Linked DNA regions of Homo sapiens. The protein of the gene in region 1 purifies or fractionates together with the protein of each later gene. This does not show direct contact. Each region holds a gene or a part of one and is shown on either strand. Other genes may lie near its edges.

Region 1 (3,500 bases):
CAAGAAACAAAACAAAAACAAAAATGAAGTCTACAGACTAAATGCCTTGTCCCAGGTAGCAGGGCAAGAAAGTACAGTCCCCAGGGTGCCTTTGATTTCAAAGCCTATAGAGATTTCTCCAAGCCTAAGATTCCATTCATGTGCTGCTAAAATATTGAAATATTTTGATAGTCTCAGATCCAAGTCTCCAAGGCCCAGCTTCTTGACTACACCAGTGCCCCCTCTGCCACCACTACCCACAGGCCACTGTGGATCATCTCACTGTCCAGAAACTAAGGGATAGATATTGACCCAGCAAAGGACTTCCAGCACCCTACTCCAGGACCGTGGCCACTGCCCAAGTCCATTTTGATTGGTCAGCGTCACGCTAGGGGGTGATGACTAAATATACTTTAATGTTATCACAGCTTTGCGTTATACTACTGTTACCTGTCTCCATTAGGGGGCTGTTAAAACAGACTGCCTGTAGTTAATTCCCAAGTCAATCAACCAGCCTTGGAAAAGGCTGCAGAACAAGTCATGGAATGAGGACTTCTGTTCGGGCCTCATGCAATAGCAAACCGTTCTGCTTCCATCAAACCTGAGGCCCTGGGGAGGCGACACCCAGTCCTCTGGCTCACTGACACCCTCCTGGAGAGTAAGAGGAATTTCCATAGGAAAGTTTCACATCCAGTTCTTAAGAAAATATTTTATACTTCTCTGAAACCTGCACTTTATTCACAGTCTGGTTTCAACATTCACTTATCCCTGTGAGAGGCACAGAAAGTGCAATTATTCGAACAGTCAACCTCTCAATATGCTATCATGCATATGCTTATTTGCATATCACCTGTACCATTGCTTACCCTATATTTTTAATTGACTCACTTTCTTTATATGATTACAACAAATGGAAAAGCAAAAGCAGTATCTCTAACCATAAAGAGAAGATAGCCTTATAAATGAATGCACCATTATTAAAGTGAAAATTCTCAACCCTGTGCCATCTGGAAATAATCTTACACACCATGAAGGATACTTTATTTGGAGAATAAGTGATGCCTTAAGTAAGGTTTCCAGTTATGGAACCAGAAGAGAGTTTGGATCACAGATCTACTACTCAGCAAGCCACGCGACCTTAGACAAGCTTTCCACATCTTTAATGTGGGTATGACAATAGCAACTTTTTCCTAGACTGATTCTTAGAGCAAGTGAATTGATACACATAAAGCCCTTTATGTAGTGCCTGACATGTAGTGCGTCTAATAAAGGTCAAATATTCTAAATGAAATACCGGTTCCAAATGGAAAACTTGGAAGCGGACTCAACATTAAAGTGAAAAGTGATCTTTTGTATTGTGAAGGATTTTTCCAAAATTGAAATTTTTCTTGGGTTTTTGTCTAGTCTATCAATTCATTGGCTTTGATTCTCCTTCAGGTCTTTGGATTCTTGAACTTTATTCTCTGGGCTGGAAACATATGGTTTGTTTTCAAGGAGACCGGCTGGCATTCTTCGGGACAGAGATATCTTTCAGATCCAATGGAGAAGCACTCCAGCAGCTATAATCAAGGTGGTTACAACCAAGACAGCTATGGATCAAGCAGTGGGTACAGTCAGCAGGCGAGTTTGGGGCCAACCTCAGATGAGTTTGGCCAACAGCCTACTGGCCCCACTTCCTTTACCAATCAGATTTAACAGAGTAGCATTTGCATTCTTCTGCAGTCGCCTCACCATCTTCCATTTCAGTGGCAGAAGAATTTTTTAAGGGTTTCAATCAATTATTAATGCAGAGAGTATTGAATGTAAATCAGAGCTCTCTAGTCTTCATTAAGGCAGCAAGTCCTGGGTTGTGAAAAATGATACTTAGAGATGAGGCGACATGAGGAGATATATTATTCATCATAGATGGCTAATTGGAGAGTACCTTGTTATATATACAGATACTTTCATGGTCATTTTGTATGTATGTTAAAGTAGTAGAAGTATTTTGTAGCTTAAAGTCTCTAGTATGTAATATGCATAAAGTAAATCAAATAGCGTTGAGTTTTCTTATGCATTTTGATGTGAAAGATGTTATAATAATTTCTAGAAGACAATTTGGTGTATCACAACATGCATGTCTTATTTTTTTTTAGTTTTAAGTCCTATAGGACTATGAGTCTCTAAGTTATTTGTTTCAGAAAATTATTCTTTTTTTATGTGATAAATCATATGATTTAAGTGCATGAATAAGCATTTTCCCACACAATGAACATTTGAACTGTGTTTATGAAAATTTTCTGGTTTGCACCATGAATTTGTCAAATGGATATTTATAGGAATATATTCACTACTTTGTATACTTTGCAAATTTGTCTCTCTGGCTTTACCCAAGTTCTGAATGCATTGTAATTAAAATTTAAGTTTTTCTTTTCCCCCATTAGTAAACATTTAGTGCTACATATGATAACTGCCCAATATTTATTCTATTTACTTAGCTAAATATTTGCATTCTTGTAACCTTCTATGGTGTTTTGTGGCTCTTATCTTGTGGACCATAAATAACACGGCCCAATAACTCTTTGTGTTTATGGAGTGTTGTTTTCTTAGAATAATGGAGATGCAGATATAGATACCATAGTCAAGGTACCGCCTTGCTGAAGTATTTATTTATAAAGAATATTCTGTAGAACCTCTACTACCAGCTATATTTTTAAATCCTGTTTATTTGTAAAGCTAATATGCTCCTCAATGTAATTATTAAAAATTCTCAAGTCACAGCTAAACTTACTAATTCTGATTTTAGTGTAGCCCCTAAATTAAAAATGGCTTCCATATGCCACTCTGTACCCCAAAGAGAGTTCTCATGAAATATTCTCCAGAATGTATTCATTATCAAGAAAATGTCAATCGTCACTTCCTCGTTTTAACTCAGCTGAAACACCAGGACCCAATAGAGAGGGCAAGCTGAGCATCTGTATTTCCAGATAAAAGTTGTTATTGATGTATAAACTCGTTGCGTGATTAGTGATGTTGGAAGCATTTTAGCACAAAACAGCCTTGTGTCTTAGATGATATCTGTAACCAGTTTCTGAATCCCGTTGGATAAAACTGTATTGTGATATCTATTTGATGTTAATAAAGTTATTGCATACAGTGCTGGCTGGACAGTGAACAATTACAACAGTAGAACCTGGTTGGCTTTAACAATGACAAACAAGGGTTAAATGCACAGTGTCTCCAATCTGTCACCCTGTCCTTGTTTCATGAGCCCAGTGAGGTTTGTTCATTCATTCCACCATTCTATGCACCTGTCACTGTGCATGCCACTGGTAATGCAGTAGTAAAAAACAAAAACAGGCAGTATGTTAAGAAGCTTACACTCTATTAGGAGAGACAGGCATTAAAATAATCACACCCCAGTTAAGCTGAGTGCAACAAACAGAGGCACAGGATTCCACAGGTACATCTGTCAGAGAGGTTTGAACTAGTTAGGGAGAAGTCAAGAAGCTTCAGACCTCAAGACTACACATGGTTTAGCA
Region 2 (3,500 bases), on another chromosome or scaffold:
TCCCAAGCTGACCCTCATCTTGCAGCTCTGGGATGTGGGGGTCTCTGTACCTTGTCTCCTGGCTGCCCTGGGGGGCCAACCTGGCCATCGACACCTGCTTCTCCCTGGGGAAGAGGAGAGAGTTGGGATGAGGGCATGCTGGGCACCTGGACAGCTGCTTATGAGGGAAAAGATGGTCTTGCCGCTCATGCCTAGATGTTGCCTTGGACTTCTCTTTCCCTGATGGCTTCTGCACCTCCCACTCTTCCACCTCCCTGACTCCTACCCATGCTTGGGCCCAGCCTGGGTCTTGCTTCCTCTGGAAGCCCACTCCTGCTTTCCTTCCCTGCATTCTGTACCCTTTACTGGTGTCCACTCTGCCCTGCCAGGCCCTCCTAGGCCCACACAGAGCCCAGCCCATGGCAGGTGGATATGGGCGGAATGAATGAGTGTATTGCCCCAGATGATGTAGAGTAATTCATGCTTTCCTTCTGAGCTAAGAAACAGACCCCCTTCATTTCTCAGTGCTGCTAAAGTAAACCAAGCAACATAGGAGCCATCTGCTTTGGGGAACCCAAATCTTACCATTGCACTTTTCAAGCAGCAAAAGGAAAGTGAGGGCAGTTTCCATTTGCAGCTGCCTCCACTGCTGCCACCTACCAGATGTGCTGGTACCAGGTGGGGCCAGCTGATAGTTGACCTGCAACCTACTCAGAGCCAAGGTGGGGGGCCTCTTGCCTGTCCTAAGGCCCTGAAGCCATTGGTCCCTTGCTCAGTTACAGCATGGCCATCAAGGTCCTGCAGCCATCAATCCTTGACTCAGTTACAGCATAGCCATGAAGGTCCTGCAGCCATTGCGCCCTGACTCAGTTACATCAGAGTCATCTGAATCACTGGGACCATCCATCTGCCCCAGGGAAGACATCTCCTCTGAAAGGTCAAACTGTTATCTGCTTGCAAGCAGGAGCTGGGTCCAAATGGCCTTTTTGGAATCCATGGGGAAAACCACACATCTGGAGCAGGGGAAGGCTAGAGAAGGCGGGATGTCCGGGACGTAGAGTCCCCGAGAACAGGCTGAAGACAAAGTCCCCAGGTAAGCACCTCCCCAACACCAATTCCAGGGAACACTCACCTTTGGCCCTGGGGGCCCAGGGAGCCCTGGAGGGCCAGGTTCCCCTCTGCCTCCTCCAATGGAGTTGCCAGCATCGCCTTTCTCTCCCTGGGGGTGGAAGGTGGAGTTAGCATCCCTGGTGTGGAGGAAGGTCTAGGCTGAGCACTGGAGGGACACTATGGGGTGTGGGCCCCAGGATGTCTGGGGACCAGGGGCCTTCAGAATCCCAGATTTATCTGATCCAGCTGTGGGATTTGAAGAGAGATTGGAAGTGTTTACTGAAGGGCAGCAGGTTTAGAGCTGACACAAGGGATCCTTCAAAACTGGGTCTGGAGCCGTGTTTCTCAAAGTGTATTCCACGGAACACTGTTCAGTGGGTTGAGAATATTCAAAATGTGGAATAACATTATTATTGGTGGCCAAACTATGTAAGAAATGAAACATTAAATAAGCTTTGCAGACCCCATCACTGCAGGGTGCTCAGGCCTCTAACAGGCTGAGGAGCACTGTGACTTTCCAAGGGTCCCATCTTATTATGCATGTCTCCCCTTATTTTGGCCTCATCTTTTTTTTTTTAATTTTTAAATTAAATATCTTACAGAGTTCATGAACTGTGGGATGCATTTGCAGAGCTGGTACCAAGAAATCTGACCAGGTCATCACTACCGAATTCTTTACATTTCGGCATTTTATTTTTGCCAATCAGGGCCTGCCTATGGCACCTCTCCCTCGACAAACAGAATCTGGCTGTGTTCCAGCTGCCTTTCCTGCAGTCTGGGAGACAGACACGTCCAATGCTGGGGCCTGTGTGGATGTGCAGGGCCAGGTATGGGATGTGGGTGACGAAGGACTTGAACCCTCCATTCAGAGCAACACCTACCTTCTGCCCCAGGAGGCCAGGAAGCCCAGGGGAGCCTTCAGCCCCCTTCTCACCCTGCAGGGAGATGCAGACAGTGTGGGGGTTAGGAACTGTTTCTGCAGCAGGTTTGGGAAGCCACCAGCTCCACAGCTTAGGGCCTTGCCTTCCCTTGCTCCTGCCTCGGTGCCCCTGCCCCCAGCTGGCTTTCTGAAGGGCTCCACTTCCTCCCGGCCCCCATCCTGACTGGCTACTTCCATGGGTCACTTCGCGTTGGTGACACCTGCATGACTGCTTTCCTTATTCCCATGTGGCCCGGGCCCTTGTCATTCATGCTGGGGAGAAGTCACACTGGCCACAGATCATAACAAAGGCCAGAAGCATCTAGTCCATCCTGGCGGTCTCCTGGGAGAGGTGAGCAGTTCAGAACGCCAGTGGTTGGGCAAGCAATTCCTTTTGACCACTCTGTTCTTCAGATTCTTAATGCTTAGCAACTAAGGGCTCCCAGTCTTTTCTGGCACCCCCTTCTCCGCCTCTAGCTATAACCAGCTCACCTTATTTGGACATAGGGTCATTGCAAATGTAATGAGTTAGGATGAAGTCCCATGGGAGTAGGGTGAGCCCCTATCCAATGTGCTGATGTCCTTTTTATAAAAGGGAGAAATTTGGGCACAGACATGCACACAGGGAAATGCCATATGGAGATGGAGGCAGAGATTGGGGTGATACGTCTATAAGCCAAGGAATGCCAAAGATTGCCAGCAAGCACCAGAAGCCGGGAGAGAGGCTTGGAGCAGATTCTCCCCCTTGGCCCTCAGATGGAGCCCGCCCTGCTAACACCTTGCTTTTGGACTTCCAGCTTCCAGAACTGTGGGACAATGAATTTCTTCTGCTCAAGCCACCCAGCCTGTAGTACTTTGTTACCACAGCCCTAGCAAAATAATACACTTCCCTACCCAGCTTCTTCCACTACGGAAGAACTCTTTTTCCCCCATGACATGAATCAAAGAGCCCCTTAGAGATGCTGAACCCCATTCTCATTTCACAGATTTGGTGAGGGAAGCCCCAAGAGGTTACGTGACTGGTGGCCAACCCCTTACTGAGTCAGTGGCAGAGGCAGGTCGAGCCCGTCTCCCTGATGCTCTGCCTTCTTTTCACAGAGCAGCTGTATTGGTCAGCTCAGGCGGCCATAACAAAGTCTGGGTGGCTTTGACAGCAGAAATGTATTTTCTTACAGTTCTGGATGCTGGAAGTCTGAGATCAGGGTGCCAGTATGGCCAGGTTCTGGTGAGAGCCCTCTTCCTGCCTTGAATATGACAGCTTTCTTGCCGTGTTCTCACAAGGCAGAGAGGGAGAACGGTCTCTCAAAGGTCTCTCTCTTTCTTCCCCTTCTTCTAGGGCCACCAATCCTATTGGATTAGGGCCTCGACCTTATGGTCTCATTTAACCTTAATGACCTCCCCAAGGCCCTATCTAAATACAGCCACACTGGAGGTGAGGGCTTCAACATATGGGTCTGGGATGGACATATTCAGTGCACAGCAGTGTCCAATA

The links. The genes of interacting proteins can lie anywhere in the genome.
Region 2: the proteins of SYNPR (region 1) and COL13A1 purify together in Homo sapiens (affinity purification with mass spectrometry; one large-scale study listed by BioGRID and IntAct). This does not show direct contact.

What each region holds. Positions count from the first base shown.
Region 1 is NC_000003.12:63,613,808-63,617,307, forward strand, and holds the end of SYNPR (synaptoporin), read left to right. Parts: exon of another isoform or gene 1-1,367; intron 1,368-1,416; coding exon 1,417-1,674; 3' UTR 1,675-3,117; downstream 3,118-3,500. UniProt on the Homo sapiens protein: Intrinsic membrane protein of small synaptic vesicles. Probable vesicular channel protein.
Region 2 is NC_000010.11:69,920,406-69,923,905, reverse strand, and holds part of COL13A1 (collagen alpha-1(XIII) chain), read right to left. Parts: intron 2,025-3,500; coding exon 1,971-2,024; intron 1,199-1,970; coding exon 1,112-1,198; intron 105-1,111; coding exon 51-104; intron 1-50.